Homo sapiens: one gene and its partners. The protein of the gene in region 1 interacts with the protein of each later gene in a pairwise test. Each region holds a gene or a part of one and is shown on either strand. Other genes may lie near its edges.

What was found. The genes of interacting proteins can lie anywhere in the genome.
Region 2: the proteins of KATNA1 (region 1) and CLU interact in a two-hybrid assay, tested with the Homo sapiens proteins (one study listed by BioGRID).
Region 3: the proteins of KATNA1 (region 1) and KATNBL1 interact in binary tests that used the Homo sapiens proteins (3 or more experiments, as listed by UniProt).

The regions. Positions count from the first base shown.
Region 1 is NC_000006.12:149,645,696-149,653,513, reverse strand, and holds the start of KATNA1 (katanin p60 ATPase-containing subunit A1), read left to right. Parts: upstream 1-4,799; 5' UTR 4,800-5,045; intron 5,046-5,270; exon of another isoform or gene 5,271-5,393; intron 5,394-7,030; exon of another isoform or gene 7,031-7,153; intron 7,154-7,818. UniProt on the Homo sapiens protein: Catalytic subunit of a complex which severs microtubules in an ATP-dependent manner. Microtubule severing may promote rapid reorganization of cellular microtubule arrays and the release of microtubules from the centrosome following nucleation.
Region 2 is NC_000008.11:27,611,682-27,619,241, reverse strand, and holds the start of CLU (clusterin isoform 1 preproprotein), read left to right. Parts: upstream 1-4,541; 5' UTR 4,542-4,587; intron 4,588-7,490; exon of another isoform or gene 7,491-7,560.
Region 3 is NC_000015.10:34,207,078-34,214,100, reverse strand, and holds the start of KATNBL1 (KATNB1-like protein 1), read left to right. Parts: upstream 1-4,004; 5' UTR 4,005-4,150; intron 4,151-7,023.

The sequences.
Region 1 (7,818 bases):
AGATTTCTATGGCTTCTCCTTTTAAAGATGCCTTCCTAAAAGTTCTACACAACACTTTCACTGCCAGAAGTTAGATCCATGGTCACATCTAGCAGCAAGAGTGTCTGGGAAATAGTCCTTATTCCAGGTGGTCTGATTTTATCAACCAGGTTCTGTTATGAGAATGGGTATTTGGCATCCAGTCTCTGCCGCAGTGAGCAAGCTGAGAGAATTTCTTTTTTTTTTTAATTATTATTTTTTGAGACAGGGTCTTGCTGTGTTGCCCAGGCTGGAGTGCAGTGGTGTGATCTCGGTTCACTGAAAGCTCTGCCTCCTGGGTTCAAGCAATTCGCCTCCCTCAGCCTCCCAAGTAGCTGGGATTATAGGCACGTGCCACCATGCCCAGCTAATTTTTGTATTTTTAGTAGAGATAGGGTTTCACCATGTTGGACAGCCTGGTCTTGAACTCCTGACCTCAGGTGATCCACCCACCTCGGCCTCCCAAAGTGCTGGGATTACAGGCCTGAACCACCGTGCCTGGCCCAAGTTGAGAGAATTTCTGATAGCTTCTATTTCTTTGAGGTTGGAGGCATAGTAATTCACTGAAAGGGCAGAAAGGGCTGGGTAGCTGCCTTTCTGGGGTAAAAGTCTGAAATAGGTTGGGTGCACTGGCTCACGTCTGTAATCCCAGCACTTTGGGAGGCTGCAGTGGGAAGATCATCTGAACCCAGGAGTTCGAGACCAGCCTGGGCCAACATGGTGAGACCTTGTCTCTACAAAAAATTTAAAAATTTTCTGGGCTTGGTGTCATGTGCCCGTAGTTCTAGCTACTCAGGAGGCTGAGACAGGACGATGGCTTGAGCCTAGTGGGTCAAGGCTGCGGTGAGCCGAGATCCTGCCACTGCACTCCAGCCTGGGGGACAGAGCAAGACCCTGTTTCAAAAAATGAAAGTCTGAACTAATGGGAAGAGTGAGACATAACTGAAGTGAGACAGGCAGAAAAATGTTTCGGCTGGGTTAGAAAGACATGAAATTATGGCGCATCAATCTTCACAGAGATGTGATTTTCTTCGTAGCATTCAACAGCCTGGTATTAGCAGATCAGTGATGGAAGCTGTTGTTTAGGAAGAATGTGTATAAGGTTAGTGAAGAACACTGGTGAATCTGTCCCAGTCTGTTACTGCAGCTATGGTGTGACATAATCTAAAAATTCAGTAAATCTTACTTATGGTTAGATTTTTCTAGCCTTATACATACTGTATCCCAGGAGATGGCTCAAATGTTTGAAGTATAGAAGAGGAATGCCAGATGCATCAACCACGTGAGTGAAGTTAATAAACTGGCCCTAAAAGTCCTTTCCAATTTCTCTCATGAAATGTAAAAAGTGTCTCAAATTCTTTTATGTATTTATTTTTTGAGACAGAGTCTTGCTCTGTTGCCCAGGCTGGAGTGCAGTGGTGCAATCTCTGCTCACGGCAACCTCCACTTCTGGGTTCAAGTGATTCTCCTGCCTCAGCCTCCCGAGTAGCTGGGACTACAGGCGCCCACCAGCACACCCACTAATTTATGTGTTTTTAGTAGAGATGGGGTTTTGACATTTTGGCCAGGCTGGTCTCAAACTCCTGACCTCAGGTGATCCTCCTGCCTTGGCTTCCCAAAGTGCTGCGATTACAGGCGTGAGCCACCACACTTGGCCCTCAAATTCTTTGAAATTATTTTATTTATTCTACAAATATCTAATTAACACCTACAATATGCCAGACATTGCTCTACTCAAATGGACAAAGTATCTGACTTCATTAAGTTTACTCACTGGGGCAAGAGAAACAAATATATAATGTGAAGAAGGTCTTCATGGCCATTCACCTTCTGTGTAATTCCAGGGGTCACAGTACCTCTTGCAACAGTCCCCCAATCTATTCTCTCTCCCCTCCAAAACTTCCTACGTTTAGCTGTCAAATTAATCCTCCTATTTGCTATATAACTTATGTCTTCATTTGACACCTTTCAATGGGTCCCCTTTTGTCTACTGAATAAAGTTTAACTCTTTAGCTGGCACCTATCTTTCTACCTCTTTTCCCCTAACTTGTTTTTGTGTGTCCTGTGATTCTGCCAAATTAACCTGACCATTCACCAGGAAAATATAATCTCAGATTTTCTGAGTCACAGTTTGGATACAATCATTTTAGAAGGGTGGTGGTTGTAGAAGCCACACTGTAAAAGAAGAAATGACTCCTAGTCATGAGAGTGGTACACAAATATTCTGCTTCTTCAAGGCACAATGCAGAGATGAACACCTGCATTTCTTTGAAGTCAGGCTTGACCAGTGACTTGCTCTGGCCAAAAATATGTAGGCAGAGCAGCAAGTTTCACATCCAGGCAGAGGCTGTGCAATTTATTTCCCTTTCTTTTTTTCACTGCCAAGGGTCCCACTGCCTGCATCCACTCAAGCTATGAACATAAAAAGTAGATAAGAAAAAAATGCTATTGTTGAAGCCTCTGTGACTTAGAGGTTGCTACAGCATAACCCACTCCTGCCTGACTAGTACAGCTAGTAAAGAAATGGAAGTAGTGAATGTAAGCCACTCTCTGGAGGTTTGTCTTTCCACCTAAAAAAAGTCTTCAGCCAGGAGCGGTGGCTCACACTTGTAATCCCAGCACTTTGGGAGGCTGAGGCGGGCAGATCATGAGGTCAGGAGTTCGTGACCAGACTGGCCAACACAGTGAAACCCCGTCTCTACTAAAAATACAAAAATTAGCTGGGCATGGTGGCGGGCACCTGTAATCCCAGCTACTCGGGGAGGGTGAGGCTTCAACCTGGGAGGTGGAGGTTGCAGTGAGCCGAGATCGCACCACTACACTCCAGCTTGGGCGACAGAGCTACACTCTGTCTCAAAACAACAACAAAAACCCAAAAAATCTTCATATATAATACGCGTACGTACACGTAATAAAATGTGCCCAGTTTGTGTACTGTTGATGAATTTTAATAAATGTTTACACCTGTGTAAGCACTACCCTAACAGAACATTTCCTTTCCATCACCTTAAATATTTCCTGGGGACTTTCAGCAATCTATTTCTTCTCCCCCTCCTCCTGAATACAGCCTCAGGCAGCCAACCACTGATCAGCTATTATTATAGATTAGTTTTGCCTGTTCTAAAATTTCTTTTCTTTTTCTTTTTTTTTTTTTTGAGACAGAGTCTTGCTCTGTCACCCAGGCTGGAGTGCAATGGCGCGATCTTGGCTCACTGCAGCCTCTGCCTCCTGGGTTCAAGCGATTCTCGTGCCTCAGCCACCCAAGTAGCTGAGATTACAGGTGTGCGCCACCAGACCCAGCTAATATTTGTATTTTTAGTAGAGACGGGGTTTCACCATGTTGGCCAGGCTGGTCTCAAACGCCTTGACCTCAAGTGACCCACCCGTCTCGGCCTCCCAAAGTGCTGGGATTACAGGTATGAGCCACCGTGCCTGGCCTAGAATTTCTTATCAATGGAATCATACAATATGTATTAATTTTGTGGCCTTTGAGAAGTTTTTTAACTGTAAATTGGCTTTATAAATTAGCATACCTTTGAACTCACATAAAGGATGAAGGTTGAATTAGGGTAATTAATCTGTACCTCCCTGAATTGGTTTTGATTCCAAAAATATATACTAAATATAGTTTCCTGTTCCCTATTACAATAGAGTTCATATTTACTACAGTGAAACTATCATTTTCCACTCAGTTGAGACGTTACAAGACTTTAAGCCCCATGAAACATTCTATTTCGTGACCACTGTATACCCAGTGCCAACACTGTCTCACACATAGTAGTTGCTGAGTAAACATTTGTTGACTGAATGGATGTATTTCCCCTGAATTGCTTCTACATGTCTATGTTAGATGACTGGGGTGCTTTTATTTTTTTAGAGATAGGGCCTCACTTTGTCTCCCAGACTGGAGTGCAATGGCGCCATCATGGCCCACTGCAGCCTCCAACTCCTGGGCTCAAGTGATCCTCTTGTGTCAGCCTCCTGAGTAGTTGTGACTACAGGCGTGCGCCACCATGTCCAGCCAATTTTTGTACTTTTTGTAGAGACGGGGGGTCTCACTATATTGCCCAGGCTGGTCTTGAACTCCCGGCTCAAGCTATTCTCCCGCCTCAGCCTCCCAAAGTGCTGGGATTACAGGGATGAGCCACTGTGCCCAGTCGGGATGCTTTAATGTTAGAAACTTAATTACCTTGCGTTTTTAAAGGAATGTGTGAGAAGTGCCCTATTCTGCCTCAAGTGATGGCAGAGGGTGGAGATTGAGACTGGAGGAAGCCCTGTGCAGTACATATCTGTAAGTCATGAAATAGCATCATTTTCCTTGTCTGGTCATATTAAAACGGTGATTAAAAAATCAAGAAAATAAAATCCCACTAGCAGTGTGTCCGAGAATCTTTGTTTACCTCCTCCCTATTGTTATGTCATGACATGGAGCCCAGCTGGGGAATTCTGAATACTAGGTTCTAAAACAGGATTTGTCATAAACGAATTGCTTGATCCTGGACATTCACCTCTAAAATAGACACCTGACCTCGGTGTGTGTGTGAGTGTGGTGAAAATCAAGTGGGAGGGAAAGTGAGCAAGCACCTGAACAAGGTACAGAGGCGCGCGAGGTAGTACCATAATACCATCTACACCAAGGTCTATACTATCCCTGGTCTCCGCTGCGTCCGCCGGGAGGAGGCGGTGCAAGAATGCGCACGCGCGGCCCCGGGCCCGGCCACACCCTCTTCCGCCGCTCCCGCCCAGCGACCTCGCTCCCGGGGCGACGCCCCGCGTGCGCCAGAGTCGCCGAGGTCGTCCCCGGCACCGGAAGTGACCCTGGCGGGTTTGTCTTCAAATTCTCGGCGAGCAGGAGCCGCGCCGGCAGGTGGTGTTGACGATTGAACTGGGCAGTACTGGGGCCGTGAGCGGAGAGCAAAGTGGGCTGGACTGGGTCAGGCCCTCCTTCCTCGCTGCCGGGATCTCCACTCCGCCAATCCCCTGTGCCTGGCGTTGGGCGGTTTCCCGAGGAGCTTGGGCCGCCGCAGGTGAGTTTTCACTCTGGCGGTGCTCTGGGGACCCCCGATTTTCCAGGGCCGGGCTGGTGAGGGACTCGGGGGGCCCACAGCGAGAACCCGCCGCGCAACCCTCCGTGAGCCTGCCTGTGCCTGAGCTGAGGTCCTAGGTCCTTGCTGTTGTCCACGATAACTTGGCTTAGGTGACAGTCCCCCTACCTGAGGAATCCTGTCAGGCGGAGGACTTTTCGGGGGCTCCTGTCGATCCCATCTTTTGATCTGTGTCGTTAGCGAAGTCACCAGCCGAGTTTTTAGTTCTTCGATTTTTCGACTGGTTCTCTCCAGAACCCGCTCACGCCCCCCACCCCGAAACCCTCACAGGTAAAAATCCCGATGGCCATGACATTGGGAGGCAACTTCTTTTCTTAAAATTTGTTAGGTTCGAGTGATATTGTTGGGGATGTTATTTCTTATTTATTCTAGAGCCCGGCGTCCTCTGGAAGGCCTGTGGGCCTTTTGGTTTAGAGTTGGTACCTTTTAGAAAAGTTTTCCCTCGAAACAGTTGTTTCATACAAATGTGATGACAAAGTTAGAGATAAACGTAGATCCTGAAGTGCCTTACAGTGGATAATCTCAAGCTCTTATTTAATCAAAAATAGTTTCCTGTTAAAACCGCGAAGGGCCGCTTTTATATTAGTTACTAACTTCCAACAGCACAGTGATGCTCTTTTCTCTTGAAAGCACTAATTTACGTCTTCCTCTTTGAAATTAGACCTCTAGTTATTGCTGAAAACATTCCCGATGTTTTAGAATGGGTGCAGTAGATCTTTGTCACGTAATCACAATGATAATCACCTTAGTAGATGTTAAGACAGATTCTTGAAATGTTTTTACGGGCTTAAATGTCTCAGTATAAAGCCCTATTTTCTTTTCCAAAAGAGCTGGGTTTTGTTCTTTTTTTTTTTTTTTTTTTTTTTTTTGAGACGGAGTCTTGCTCTGTCGCCAGGCTGGAGTGCAGTGGCGCAATCTTGGCTCACTGCAACCTCCGCCTCCCGGGTTCAAGCGATTCCCCTGCCTCAGCCTCCTTGAGTAGCTGTGACTACAGGCGCGCTCCACTACGCGCGGCAAATTTTTTGTATTTTAGTAGAGATGGGGTTTCACCATGTTGGCCAGGCTGGTCTCGATTTCCAGACATTGTGATCCGCCCGCCTAGGCCTCCCAAAGTGTTGGGATTACAGACGTGAGCCACTGCGCCCGGCCGGTTTTTGTTCTTATACCAAGAAATAGGAGCAAAACTTTGTTTTGTATTAACATTAACAAGTTGTGGCCTGTAAATACCTTTAAAAAAAAAAACACGCAGTAGTGATCAACTTCCCAACATTCCTAGACTATGAAAAGCTATATAAAGCTTCTTTATAGCGTTGGTTATTCAAGAAGCGTTTACATTTTTATAGGTAATAGGCATGCTATGTAGTCCACAAGGGATTCTCCACCTCATTTTGAAACTGGTATCAAGATGCTGACAAATATTGAGGATTAGAGAATCTTGTTGAATTCACTCTATTAACAACATTGTTGAATTTCTATTAACAATAGTTTGGGTTTTTTTAGCCACTTGACTGTTTAAAAAAGATAGTATTATCACATAAATATGGTCAGTGTTGATAACATGCCAAATAGCTTTTGCTTGTGGCGTTTATCGATAGGGCTTGAATATGACTTTTAAATTACGTTTTAATAATTAAACTCACTGATTTGTTTGTTTAGGGTAAACTGAAAGTTTACTGTACAAATAGAGTGGACTTTATATGTACTTTTTTTCTGAACAGGTTGCTTTTTGGTGTTTTTAAAAAATAGTGGTAACTTTCTTGTGCTTAAGTATTTATCATATGATGGTTATAAAGGTAAGAAAAATGTATGCCATGCTGTAATTGGTCATGGGTCATTCATTTATTGTGCTTATTCGTAATCATCAGTGGCTGACTATAAATTAGCATGTGGTTTCTTTCATATCCCAGAGATGAACATTCTGAAAATTACTTACCAATGTATGGCCACTTTTGAAGTCATATACACTTGCTTTACTGAAATGCCTTCAGGAAGATGCATGATTGGGCTTCGTGATCTTTTTGTTTTAGGAGGTAAATTTTACAGAGAGGTATTTAAAAAACACTTTCAGCCTTCCAACATTGCTGCTGATTTTTTAGTCTGTGTTTAATAATATTCTATGTTTGTCTTCTCTTACTAAGCAAAGAAAACCCACCTAGAATAAATAAGGTGATATCCCTTCTATTAAACTTCAAGGATTTCAAGGTCTAATTCTGTCTTATTTTTGTCTTCAGTGCAATTCCTTGCAACTTAGTTGGTGTTCCTTTAATATTTCTTGAATGAATGACCCATGCACATTATGTTAAAAAAAACTGCAAATAAGTGGAGCCCAGCCTGAGTCCTTTAAAAATTAAATGGGTAAGGTATCCTCTTTAGGTGTGAAATAGGCAGGGCCCTGTATTTGTTGTTTAGAGAGAGAATAAGAATCTTAGAACTCAGATATTTCAATATTTTGCCTGTTCTTTTTCAGTCTCTGTGATCACTTCTTTTTCCTAATCCTAGAGGAGAAAAAAAAAAACTTTCTCTGTGGAGAGACAGCACTGCATCACATACTATATTGCTAGAAAATTTGCTGTAAAATTGCGATTTCAGTATTTTTAAAAATTTGATTCTGTCACTTGAGTTAAAATTTCACATTGCATCTTGCTTACTCTAAGTAAGTTAATTTAGTCATTAGCTAACTCATAAATACTCAAGG
Region 2 (7,560 bases), on another chromosome or scaffold:
CTGGATATGATTTTATTAGCCACCATTTGATCATGGGCCTGTAATTGATTAAATAAATGTATATACCCATTAAATAATTACAGCTTGGAAAGTGATTCTTTTTTACTAAGAATCATTTGTGATCTTTTTACTAAGATCGTTTGTGTAATGATCGAATTAGGGTAATTAGCAAATCCATCCTTTTGTTTGTTTGTTTGTTTGTTTTTGGATGGAGTCTCACTCTGTTGCCAGGCTGGAGTGCAGTGGTGCGATCTCAGCTCACTGTAACCTCCAGCTCCCGGGTTCAAGCAATTCTCCTGCCTCAGCCTCCCGAGTAGCTGGGACTGCAGGCGCGTGCCACCATGCCCAGCTAATTTTTGTATTTTTAGTAGAGACAGGGTTTCACCATGTTGGCCAGGATGGTCTCTTGACCTAGTGATCTCCCCACCTCGGCCTCCTGAAGTGTTGGGATTATAGGCGTGAGCCACTGCACCCAGCCTTTCACTAAGTTAAAAAAAATTAAAACTGACACGAGAATGGTACATATTTGTGGGGTACAATGTGATGTTTTGATACGTGCACACATTGTGTAAGGATCAAATTAGGGTAATTACCAAATCCATCTCAAACATTTCTTTGTGGTGAGAACATTGTAAGTTCTCTCTTCTACCTATGTTGAAATATACATTATTCAAAAAATAAGAGGTGCTGGTGAGGTTGTGGATAAAAGGGAAGGCTTATATACACTGTTGGTGGGAGTGTAAATTAGTTCAACCATTTTGGAAAGCAGTGTGATGATTCCTGAAAGAGCTAAAAACAGAATTAACATTTCACCCAGCAATCTCATTACTGGGTATATATAGGAATATAAATTGCTCTGCCATAACGACACATGCACTCATATGTTCATTGCAGCACTATTCTCAATAGCAGAGGCATGGAATCAACCTAAATGCCCATCAGTGGCAGACTGGATAAGGAAAATATGGTATATATACACCATGGAATACTACGGTATACACCATGGAATACTATGCAGCCATAAAAAAGAACGAGATCATGTCTTTTGCAGGAACATGGATGGAGCTGGAGGCTATTATTCTAAGTGAAGTAACACAGGAACAGAAAACAAAATTCTGCATGTTTTCACTTATAAGTGGGAGCTGAATGATGAGAACACATGGACACATAGAGGGGAGCAATAGATACTGGGACCTAAAAAAAAAGTTAAACTCTACTATGCGATAGAATACCAGAACTTATCCCTCCCATCTGACTTTAACTGTGTACTGGTTGACCAATCTCTCACCATCCTCCCTCCCTGCTCCCCTTGGAGAGTGATTCTCTTATTTTTTTCATTTTTATTTTTGAGAGACAGGGTCTCACTTTATTGCCCAGGCTGGAGTGCAGTGGTGCGATCGTAGCTCACTGCAGCCTTGACCTCCTGGGCTCAAGCGATACTCCATCTCAGCTTCCTGAGTAGCTGAGATTGCGGGCATGCACTACCATGCTTGGCTAATTTTTTAATTTTTGTAGAAACTGGGTCTTGCTATGTTGCCCTGGCTGGTCTTGAACTCCTGGACTCAAGTGATCCTCCCACCTCAGCCTCCCAAAGTGCTAGGATTACAGGTGTGAGTCACCACGCCCATCTGAGAGTGATTCTTAATCACAGGCCACAGGATACTGCTCTTGCCCATTCCTAGTTTGTTCCAGCTGTATCAGACTGCTGGCTGAGCTGTCCTGCTTGTGGTGCTGAGCCAGACAAAGGCTGGTTGGGGATGTGTAATAAGGACACTGCGTAGCGAAGCAGCCCCAGAGACATTCAGGCAGCCAGAGATGGTGCACAAAGCATAGATAAACAGATAAATGCAAGGGTCTTTACTCATCCCTCCCTGGCCCTCCCCATGGCTCTGACTCTCCAAGAAAATAAATCAAGCTAATGCCCCAAACCCAGCTGTGTAAGTCCATAATGGGAGACAGAGGATCAAACAGCAGCACCTGCCAAGAAGATGATGCATTCTCTATGAATCAGCCCAGTGACTCAGCATCTGATAAAGCTTATTTGGAGTGTTTAGGGCAAGGGAAGGGGTGGTCCTGTTCTGCTTTGTGTGCTCAGGCCCTCCGGCATTGGCTGGTCCAAGGCTCCCCACTGGCATTGGCTAGTCCAGGGCTGGGCCAAGGGTTTCAAGAGAGATGAGGTCCAGAATGTCAAAGGGCTGGGGAAAAGTCTGCAAACCACGGCAAGGCAAGGAGCTGCAAGCCTGGAGGTCACTGGGAAAAGCAGACTACGTTGCCTTCAAATATCAGAAGGGGCACTATGGGAGAGATAGGCTGGATTTTCTCTGTGTGGCTCCAGAGGGCAGAACTGGGCTCCGGATTGGCCCATACACGAGCCAGACTGTGACTCAACCAAAGAAGGCCCTAACTTTATCAACAGCTTTACTAGACAAATGGTTGCATGGCAGGTAGTGAGCTCCCTGTTATTGGTGGCATTCAAACATGGGCAGGATGACCACCGGGTGCAGATGCTGGGGATGGGGTAGGAATCAAGCAGTGTGTGAGTCCTGAACCAATCAATGTCTATGATCTGCTTAGAATATGAAACATCTGGTGATGCATTTATGGCGCTTTCAAAATTTACACTTTTCTTTCCTCAAAGTTTGACCTTCTGAACCTTGTTTGCTTAGTAGTGGGAATAATCAAGTAATTATTCCCAAGGGATCACAGTCATGACTGTGAATCTGTGAATCATGCTATTTTCTCCCAAGTCCTTTCTTCCTCTCTTCCCTTCCCCTAATTCAGCTGGCTAAGGCGGATCTCACTGACTGACCTCCAAAGTCTAATTTTTAAAAATATAACTAGATTTATGCCTTCTGTTCCGGATGCTGAGGGAGCTACAGAACAGAAAAGTTACAAGGAGCGAGCTCAAAAACAATTCTTCTAACCTCAGGTATTGATAAGGAGCAGGCACTGATAAGGAGCAGGCACTGTCCACAGAAAATGTAGCTGTTACTGATAATTAGACATTTTTTTTTTAAGAAAAATAAAGTGTAGCCTCTTCTGGGACATTTTTTTCTTCTTCTGGGTTAATGGCCTTCTAATACTTGGCTTGGCTCTAGGTTAGGTTGCAGGGAGCCGTGGAGATGATCCATTCCCGATTCCTCATCGTCCAGATGGAAGAAACTGAGGCCCAAGGGCAAAGTGATTAGTCCGAGGTCACCCAGTGTCTAGGGGCACACCTAGGACTGTAATCAGACTTTCATGGACCTGGTCTGGGTTCTCCCACTTAGTCATGGGCCTTGAAGATTCCCCGAGGCTGCCTCCTGAAAAGGACTGGGGTCCTAGTGGCCCCTGGACGTTGGGCAAGCAAGGGACTGGGCCTCCATGTTGTGCCTCCATAGTCCTGATCCTGAACTGGAAAACTCAGCCCCTGACCACGCAGCTCTCCTTTAAGCCCCTTTGTTTCACATGGTTTTCAAAGTCTGCCACCCACAGTGGGGCTGCCTGTACCCGCCCTGTCCACCCATTGCCCCAGCTGTCAGCCCCTTGACTTCTCTCCTGGGGCTTAAACATCCCTGGCTCCAAAATGGGCAGCTCACTTTCTTCCCCAAGAAGTAGCTGCACCTCCAGGGTTCCTAGATTTGCCCCTCCTTGCCAGGGGGAGGGGTGGCTGCGACAGGAGATTCTCCCTGCTCTCAGCAGAAGGAACTCCAGCAGTTGGAGACCAGCAAACCCCTCTGGACACAGATCTGATTTCCTAACTGGGAAGGCTCAGGGCAAAATAAAAATTCAGGTCCACTGGTTCAAAAACTATGAAGAATTTCAAGACCGTCACAGTAGCCCATTAAACCAAACGTGGATCTGCAAGGGTCCCACAGCCATGAAGCCCACCCTGCTTGGTTGGGTTCCAAAAAGATGGGGACAGTGATTGCTTAAGCTCTGTGGATCAAGGACCCCGGAGAGGCCTTCTGGCTCTCCACATATCTGCTCTGATCACTCCTAAACACAATTCTGTTTCCTCCAGGCCTGGCGGGTCAGTCCAGGGACCCCCATCAGTGTGATGTTTCCAGGAGTAGGCGTTTCAATACTTCCTGTGCTCTCTTCTCCAGCACAAGGCCCCTCTCCATCCCACCCTCATTATGTCTGACTCTTTACTATTTAAATGGGTCAAGAGAAGTGGCGCTTGTGTAATGTGAAGGTTAAGGTCAGTAGGGCCAGGGAACTGTGAGATTGTGTCTTGGACTGGGACAGACAGCCGGGCTAACCGCGTGAGAGGGGCTCCCAGATGGGCACGCGAGTTCAGGCTCTTCCCTACTGGAAGCGCCGAGCGGCCGCACCTCAGGGTCTCTCCTGGAGCCAGCACAGCTATTCGTGGTGATGATGCGCCCCCCGGCGCCCCCAGCCCGGTGCTGCACCGGCCCCCACCTCCCGGCTTCCAGAAAGCTCCCCTTGCTTTCCGCGGCATTCTTTGGGCGTGAGTCATGCAGGTTTGCAGCCAGCCCCAAAGGGGGTGTGTGCGCGAGCAGAGCGCTATAAATACGGCGCCTCCCAGTGCCCACAACGCGGCGTCGCCAGGAGGAGCGCGCGGGCACAGGGTGCCGCTGACCGGTGAGATGTCCCCGTCTTCCCTACCCTTGAGCAGAGCCACACCAGGACGGATGGGCGGGCAGGGGATGGCAGCCAGGCAGAGAGGGATGACACAGCTCGCAGTCACAACCCCTGCGCTTTCGACGGAGCCCAGGAAGCCAGGGAGGGGAGGTGGCCGGAGCCCCATCACCAGGCAGCTGAGCCAGGGGCCCCGGCGCAACCGCCGCCTGAGAGCACGAGCTCCAACCACAATTCTGTGGTGGGGGGGTAAATAGAACAGATATAATGATCATCCTTTCGCAAAGATGGGGAAACTGAGACCTGGAGACCTGCCGCGTTGCGGGAGACCCAGGCTAGCAGGTGACAGAGCTGGCCTGCACCGAGCTCCTTCCTGCAGCATATCCTCTGCGAAGATGCGGATCTCTCAGTTGTGGCTTTCGGCTTGCATGCATGAGTCATCTAGTTTTCTTCTAAATTCTCTAGCTCTCTGGACACTGTTGCCTGTAAGTATGAGGCTGCGGATTTCAGTATATGCTGCAACCACCGAAATCCGACTTTTTCTGCCTCCTAATGCATCTGAGGTGCATCAGAGAAAAGTCACACAAGATCCACCAGGCCTCAGACCTCTGATTCCACAGTCTCATTTTACAGATGATAATCTGAGGCCTGGAGAGGTTTAGGACTGGTGCCAACACTAAACAGCAAATAAGTATCAGAATTGGGATTCGAGCCAAAGCCTCTTGACCTTCCAGAATTTCTGGACCTAGTTAAAAAAAATATGATTTTTATTATTATTTTTTAAACGGAGAGGTTAGGAATTTAAAGGAAAGTACAGATACTATATAAAAAAAGATGCCCATGAAAATGTTAAGTTATAATAATAGTGGAGCATTGGGCACAACTGAAATGGCCAATCTTGTGAGAATGGTAAAATAAACTTAGGTCCGTGAGTAAGTGGAGTATTACATAGCCATAAAAGTATGCCCTTAAAGAATATTTGAAGATGGTGAATGTGAAGAATCTTGTATAAACTGCATGGAAGACAGAAGGAAATATACCACAGTGCTAACCTTTGCCTCTGGGTGATATGAATTACCGGTGATTATTTTTCTTATTTTCCTTTTGGTTTAGTTTTCTCCATTTGAAGAAGCAGATAGGAGCCGGGGCTTTGGGATTGAAACCCTCACCATCTGTGTGCCCTCTTCACTGTCTTCCCATCCTCCCCACGGCTCCCTGTTCACAGTCATTGATTTTCTTTCTTTCTTTTCTCTCTTTTTTTTTTTTTTTCCTGAGACCAAGTCTCACTCTGTTGCCCAGGCTGGAGTAGAGTAGCGCCATCTCGGCTCACTGCAACCTCCGCCATCCGGGTTCAAGCAGTTCTCATGCCTCAGCCTCTGAGTAGCTGGGACTACAGGCGCATGCTGCTACATCCGGCTAATTTTTGTATTTTTAGTAGAGACATGGTTTCACCACCTTGGCCAGGCTGGTCTCGAACTCCTGATCTCAAGTAATCCGCCTGTCTTGGCCTCCCAAAGTGCTGGGGTGACAGGTGTGAATCAATGCGCCCTGCCAGGTCATTGATTTTCTTAAGCCTCCAGCCCTGCCCTGCTTGGAAACGTTTTGGGAAGCTGCTCAGTTCAAAGTTCCCAGGAGGGTGTGCCTGGAGGGGAGTTGCTCCCAAAGTCTGCCTGCTCCCCCCGCCCCCCCTGCCCCCCACCCCCCGCCATCTTCTCCTCCTCCTCTTCCCCTGAGCAGCCCCTTTGTCCACAGAACCGGCCTTTTCTGGTAGAAGGAGCAAGGCCAAGTGGTTTAAGCCTTCTTAGGGAGAATGAGGCTGTGTGGTAGTGCTGGGGACTCGAGGGCCTTGGCCTTGGCATGGCTCTTCCACCCAGGGCAGCTGGCAGCCAGGCTCCCAGGAGGCAGAGGAGATGAGGGGGGAGGTGAGTCCGAGCAAAGGAAAGGAGGTCGGCTGTGCAGTCACGGTTCTAGAACATTCCTTGGATCAGCAGCATCCATATCACCTGCAGACTGGCTGGAAAAGCAGTCTCAGAACCAACATTATAACCAGCCCTGCAGTGATTCATAAGTACTTTAAAAAGTGGTCAATCATTTCAGCAAAGCAGAGCCACACAGTCCGGGGGACCACAGGTGGCCTCTGTGTGCTTGTCTCGGTTTTCCTGCCCCTCTCCAGACATGTTGATTAGACACTGCCAATGCCCAGCCTCAGACCTCAGTCTAATTTGGAAGTAGTCAGAATTTACTATGATTACATAAGACCCTCGTGTTTACAGAACACATTCCCCTCTCTGAGGTCTGGATTAGATCCATTTTACAGATGAAGAAACTGAGGCTCAGATATTTAAGTGACTTGGAATCAAGGAAAGAATACTGGACTAGGGGTCGGGAGGGCTGGGCTCTCATCCCAGGGTTACCATGAGCATGCTGTGGACTCTAGGGAGTCCCATGCCCTCTCTGGGCTTCAGCCTCACCGCTAGGGTAGAGAGGTTGGGTGAGAGAACGACCTCCTTCCCAGGTCTGAGCTGGATGGTTCACCAGGGACCCCAGGCTCCCTGGAGCAGACTCTGTGCCCGCTGCTGAGTCTGGAATTCCTTTCCTGTATCTTGCCTTTGGCTGCCCCATTCTTCATGGCCCAGCACCCTGTCTTCTGGTCAGAACCTAGTTCTGAATGGGTTTTTCCAGAAGTTGTTGCTTTCAGGGGCCCCTGGCAGAGAGGTGTTTCTGGCTGGCTTTGTCTCTCTGGCATGACAAAGGCTCTGTTCCTGCTGGAGGCATTTCAGGGCTCAGTGGGCAGCTGGGGCAGAGCCCGTGAGACCACAGCCTTCCTGGTGAGCCCGGTCTCCGCCCCCTACCCCATCTCTGGGGAAGGCGCTGACCCCATCTCTTCTCCCACGCTGCTCCCTGGCTCTTTGCGCCTGATTACTTCTCATGAGAGGCACTCCTTGTTAATGTGCTACTGAGTGTCCAGATGGGCCT
Region 3 (7,023 bases), on another chromosome or scaffold:
AAAATCACTAAACTCAGTTTTTCAGAGAGAGACACAATCACTGCTCTAGGCATTGTTGTATATGTTTTATATAGGTTATCCCACTTCCCAACAGCCCCTGAGAGGAGAGTGTTATCCCCATTGCACATTAAGGTAAAAACCGGTGTAGAAACGGCCCAAAGGCAGCAATCTAGGTTTTAAATAGAGATGAGCCTTGCTCCAAGGCTAGTCTAACATGCTGCCCCCACCACGTTCCACCTGGTGACAGTATAGTCTAATTGCAGGAAATGTACTTGCAGGAGGAGAGAGATGGTTTCTTGAGATTCGGATTTGAAAGTCTATAAATACCAAATATTATCATAGTCATAAATGTTTTTGGGTCACCTGATCTCAGTTGTAGATTTACAATAGAGGGCTGTAGATGTAGCAGAAACAAGCTATCTTAAAAATAGGATCCCCCATCACTCAACACCTCCCTACCACCCACCCTTCACCCCGCAAAAAACACTACCAGGGGTTTTGTTTTGTTTTTTGGGTTTGTTTTTGTTTTTGTTTTTTTTGCTTACTGCTTCTGCCATTACTTCCTTCCACAGCCTGCAAAGGAAGGTAGGGAAGGGAGGAGCAGAAAAAAGGGATTGACTTCTCACTTTGACTGCTAAAGTCAACTGCCTAGAATTTTCCAAAGGTGCTGAGGCTGAGCAGTGTGGAATGGGTGAGCTGTTGCTGTCTTTTAGGTCCCTTCAGGCATTGTTCTCTGTCAGAATCGGCATTGGTCTCAATGAGAATGACATACAATGCAGTAAATGATATGGCTTCTAGGACCCTAGACGGAACTACACTTTTATACCTAATGTTATTGCTATCAGTCATTCCTCCCTACCCCTGGCCATCCAGCATCCTGGTAACAAATCAACTCTTCTTCTTCTTTTTCTTGCTTTTTTTTTGGTTGGTTTGTTTTTAAGAGACAGGGTCTTGCTCTCTTGCTGGACTACAGTGCCATAATCATAGCTTACTATAATCTTGAGCTCTTTGGCTCAAGTGATCCTCCCACCTCAGCCTCCCGAGTAGCTAGGACTACAGGTATGCACCACCATGCCCGACTATTTTTTAAATTTTTTGTAGAGTTGAGGTGTTGAAATGTTGCCCAGCCTGGTCTCAAACTCCTGGCCTTAAGCGATCCTTTCACCTTGGCCTCCCAAACAGATCAATCCTTCTAAAGAACTGACTTAGTCATTCCCCTGCTCAATTGTCTTTGCTGTCTCCTTGCACCTCAAACACTTTGCTTGATAATTCCAGGTCTTCGCAACCTATCAGGTGCCTTACGTACCTTTTCAGTCTTCACTCCTGTGACTCTTGCAAGCACTTTTCCCTCCACTCAAATCAGAATAGACTGCAGTACTAGAACTTACTTTGCATTTCCACCTCTCTGTCAGGAACATCCTGTCTGTCCTCTCCAGTTCATCAGGCCCAGCTCCACCATCCCTCCCCTGCTTGCCATCAAGCAGTGTACACAGGACTGCATGGCAGCTCTTTTCTCATGTGGGTCACTCTACACTGTGTCCTTGAATGATTCTGCACCCCGTAGAGAGGGGGATGTGAGGCAGGAAGGCTAACTTAGCTGCGTGTTCTCTCAGAAGGAAGGAATGAAGGAATGGCCAGAGGAGTAGACACCCTTGGAGACTGCCCACCACGAAGGCTATCAGTAAACCACCTTTTTGTACACAAACACTGATGTAGGGATTTTTTTAATGTATGGGCTGTACCTTTTTTTAGTAAGAATTCAAATTTTATTGAGCCCCAAGGGGGAAAAATTCAACTTTATTGATAGGAAAAGTATCAATGAAGAAAGTTGCCTTGCATTTTCATCACTAAAATGACAGTATTTGTATATATTCCAAAAGTAGCAATGCAAAGGCAGTTTTCCTTATTTTTATGTGAAATTATGAGATGTGAGGGCCTGGGCTGCCCATCACTGATACAAACTTTATAACTTGGCTCTGGAGATTAACCTGCCTGAGATCCTGTGCCCTAACAAGCTCCAGAAATGAGAATATCAAGGTTCTTCTCTGGCCTCCAGCAACTGGAGGCCTTGTATTAGCTGAGATTCTTCTGTGTTAACACAGCAGATTCCCTGAGTTCCAGGACTCCATTACTTGTCTTAATTCTTTAGCCTCCCTTGAGGATAACGATCATATAGTACACTCTTTTTACCCTATTCTTCTGATGAGAGGCCAGCACAGTGCCTTTTGCATAGTGGGTCATCAAGAAATTCCTGTTCATGATGATGAAGAAATGACTTGAGAGAAAGTGACTTCACCCATGTGTGTTGAATTTTTATTTTCTTTAAAACAACACATCTACTTAGTGGAAGTCATATTCAGGAAATATTCTTTATTGTACATACATGGAACCTAGGGCTCCAGCTTCCTTTACTCACCTAGCTGGACTCTCTCAACAGTACCACCTGTTAACAGATGTGGCCCCACACATAGGCATGTATGTGCCTTGCTTATGCTTGGTACAATCGAGAAGCTCTCAAAGGTGTTGCTTATGCCAAATATCCTAAAACTATTTTCCCACTGCCCTAAGGTCTTGCCTCAATTTTCAACATGACTTTTTTTTTTTTTTTGATTAAGTAAGGACTCTGTTACTAGGGAGGAAAAATACATAAAGTTATAACAACCTGATGACATCTTAGTTCTGATCAGTTTATCTGACAGGCCTCCCATTGCTCGGAACTCCCACGGCATTTAGGAGATACCTTTTATCACTGCAGTGTATTGGAATGATCTCTTTTCCTGTTTTTCAAGCCACTGAGAGCTGCTTCAGGCGATTTCCAGCACCAGGCACAATTTGCCTGGCACATGGCGGGCCTTCAAAAAGATTGTTAAACCAAACTTAAGCAGCCTGCTCCCTAGGCAAGCCTTGAGTTCCGAAATGAGTGCCTGAAAAAGCAAGCCAAGGGATGTAGTCTTGTGGTGAGGAAGTATTTCCACCAAAGGCACTGCTTGGTTGGTTTCTGCAAGGGGCGAGAGAACCACCATAGACAAACTTGCTCCTGTCACAGCTTGGCTAACCTTGACCGGTGGCTTATCTATGAAGGTGAGCAGCCTGGTTCTAATGAAGAGAACTGCCCTCAGTAATTAAAAGTTCATCATCTACAGACCCAACCCTAACCTCATAATCTAATTTAGTGTTCCCCATCCCAACAAGACCGAACCAGCTTCCTGAGGACAGGTTCTGCATCATGTACATTTCTTGTGTTCTTAAGAGTCTAGCACAAAGTTTGGCACATAATAGGAACTAAAAAAATGATGACTAACAAACACGAAGGGCTTACCATATGCCGGGCACTCCTCTAAGCATTTTATATGTATTAATTCATTTAATCCTCACAACACTAAGAGACAGATACTATTGTTATTGTCCCCATTTTACAGAAGGGGAAAGCAAAGCACCTAGGAGTTTATGTGACTTGCTCAAGGTCACATAGTTCCACAATCCATGCTTTTAGAAACTATGCCTTAGAGCGTTTATTAGTATCATTTTTATTTTTATAGAGACGGGGGCGGAGGTGGGGGGTGGGGGGTAGTTGTCCCCATGTCGTCCAGGCTGGTCTTGAATTCCTGGGCTTAGGTGAACCTCCTGCCTCGGCCTCCCAAAGTGCTGGGATTACAGGTGTGAGCCACTGTGCCCAGACTCTTAGTGTATTTAAATAGGTGTGAATGAATAAATCTCTCCCGGAACCATAACTTTATAGGAAATTGTTTGCACCTCCTGGTACACCACTAAGGCACGGTCTCCCACACTAGGTTGTTCCTAGCGCACGGTCGGTCATTCGTTGACCTTTACCCACCCTCAGTTCCTATCGCAGTATCACTTCTCGCGCCATAGCAAGGCTACCGTGCGAAGCTCTAGCCACCAGGGGGCACTGTGGCCACAGGTCCTTTTCCCCTCCGGCCCTTAGCGACCCCCAGAGGGGCGGAGCCAACGTTGGGCGGAGCCCGCGAGCCGCCCACAGCGCCAGCTATCCCGGCGGGCCGCGCGCGCGGCCGCGTTTGAATGGCCCTGAGTGGGACTCGGCCCAGAAGCCGAGGGACTCTCTAGGCTGCCGGGCGCTGGTCGTCAGCGCCGAGGCTGGGCTGAGGCGCCGCGGTACCATGAGGCGCCGGTAAGTGACTGCCGAGCCGGTGCGAGCCCCGCGCCCGCAGCTGCCCTGCCCTGGCAGGGCTACTCCAGCCGGGCTTGGCCGCGCCCTGGGCCCACCTGCAGGCCCCGCGGCGGCCTCGGCTCGGCCGGGCTCGCGGCAGCGCTGCCGGGTCCCGGGGCGGGGCGGCAAGGCCGGGGCGGAGCCCCTCTGCCGGTCCCTGCGGGGAGAGTCGGGCAGCGGGCGCTGGGGGGCTCCAGGGGACTGGGCCGGGAGAGGCGTGGACCGAACCTGTTGTCACTTATTTATCTTCGGGTGGAGTCGACAGCTGCACCTGGGGAAGGGGAAGGACAGAACGAGTGTGGGGCGAGCATTTTTGAGGACAGGTTTTCCGCAGAGCGCCTAGGCCCGGCCCAGGCATTTCCTTATTTTCCGACGGGTCCTCGGATTCCTGACGGATGAGCTTTTGTTTCGCAGGACAAAAACTTGACATAACTGCATAAGAATTGTCGATTGCAACTTTAAAAACCTTACTGTATTTTCTGAAAAGTTGTTCTGTAAAGTATCTAGGCTTTTACTACGCTCTTATATTGCTTAAATATGGAGATAACAAAGAGTTGGTTTGTTTTCTTGTGGCTTATAAAGTTCCTTGAAAACAGAGATACCTATGTCAGTTTCTTTGCTGATTTAAAAAAAATTGTAAGAGAAATTAGGTGTGTAATAATCATCAGTTCAGCACTTGCGAGAATTATGAGAAACTAGTCCACCTAATAGCTTAAATCTGCTGGGTTTTTTGGAGTTTCTTTGGATAGCCAGCTTCAGACTTGAATTGAAACGTCATCCATTGAGGCTTTTACTTGGCTAATAACTAATATTAGCCAATAATAATATTAGCCAGTGTGATCATAATGATGGGCAATATTTATTTTGTGCTTTCTATGCGCTGGGCGTATTAAGAGCTTTACTTTGGGATATATACTGTTGTCCCCATTTTGACAGTGAAGAAACTAAGGCACAGGAAATTTTAGTATTGTAACTTTTGTACCGTACAGGGTTACACAGCTAATATAATTAACACCCGAGCAGGCTGGCTCCACGCTTTTAACTCTGTTGCTCTACTACCTCCTTTATCTGTGGCTCTTTTTAGTTTACAAAGCCCTTTCATTTCATTTACTTAAACTTCGGAGACCTGAGTGTGCTTTTGTGTACACATACATTCATTCACACACCATTCATTCAAGTTTTCTGCTCTTGATGATTATACTTAAGGTTTGTGCCTGAGCAAAAAATCCATTGACTATTTTAAGATAAATGGAGTTCATAAGCTTTATGTGTGTTATAATTTATGTTTTCAATTCCTTTATATCCTTTCCTGAAAGTTTTGAAAGTGTTAGTCTTAGCAACTTATGTATTACTTTAAAATAAAAAATTACATGTTAAATGTTTTCATCCCTAAAACTTATTGAGTGGTTATTCTGTACTTGAAATGGTTATACTTAAACTAATACCTCCTTGACAAGGAATAAATTTCAAAAGCAAAATCACTTAGTAAGAAATCAGCAGTTTATACTTATCTATAGCAGAGCTTTTAAATGTCATTCATCAGTTACAAAGCTTTCGATTGCCTGTATGCCCAACAGGGTGGTAGACCCAATTGGCTATACAAAAGAAATGTGCCGCAAGAATGACACTATGGACTTTGGGGACTTGGTAGAAAGAGAGTGGGAGGGGGATGAAGGATAGAAGACTACACATTGGATACAGTGTTCACTGCTCAGGTAATGGGTGCACCAGAATCTCGGAAATCACCCCTGAAGAACTGATTCATGTAACCAAACACCACTTGTTCCCCAAAAACCTATTGAAATAAAAAATAATAAAAATAAAATAAAAAATGTGCCAGGACAACCAACCTTAGGGAGATTAATCTAGTTTGGGTTATGAGATTAACAACAAAAAATATATATGACACTCTTCGTTAGTACAGTGGATGAATGCAGAACTGAACTGGGTAAAGCTTCTGCGAAAAACTAACAATTGCAGGATTTATGTAGGGCACTGAACAGAAGGGTGGATGGTGGGGCTAGGCAGGGTTGGTAATCCCAACACTTTGGGAGGCCAAGACAGGAGGATCTCTGGAAGCCAGGAGTTCGAGAGCAGCCTAGGCAACATAGCGAGACCATATCTCTACAAAAAATTTAAAATATTTTGCCAGGCATGGTGGCATGTGTCTGTAGTCCCAGCTACTTGGGAGGCTGGGGTGGGAAGATCGCTTAAGCCCAAGAGGTCAAGGCTACAGTGAGCCGAGATTGTGCCACTGCACTTCAGTGCAGCCACAGAACTGGTGTGGCTCACACCTGTAATCCCAGCACTTTGGGAGGCCAACGGTAGGAGGAAAGCTTGAGCCCAGAAGTTTGAGACCAGCCTGGGCAACATACCAAGACTCCATCTCTACAAAACATTTTAAAATTAGGGCCAGTGGGTCATGCCTGTAATCCTAGCACTTTGGGAGGCTGAGGCAGGTGGATCACAAGGTCAGGAGATCGAGACCATCCTGGCTAACACGATGAAACCCTGTCTCTACTTAAAATACAAAAAATTAGCTGGGCGTGGTGTCACACGCCTGTAGTTCCAGCTACTTGGGAGGCTGAGGCAGGAGAATCGGTTGAACCCAGGAGGCAGAGGTTGCAGTGAGCCGAGATCGCACCACTGCCTTCCAGCCTGGGCGACAGAGTGAGACTCCATCTCAAAAATAAAATAAAATAAAATTAGGCAGGTGTAGTGGCATGCGCCTGTAGTCACAGCTGCTTGGGAGGCTGAGGTGAGAGGATTCCTTGAGTCCAGAAGTTGGAGGCTGCAGTGAGCCATGATCATATCACTGCACTCCAGCCTGGGTG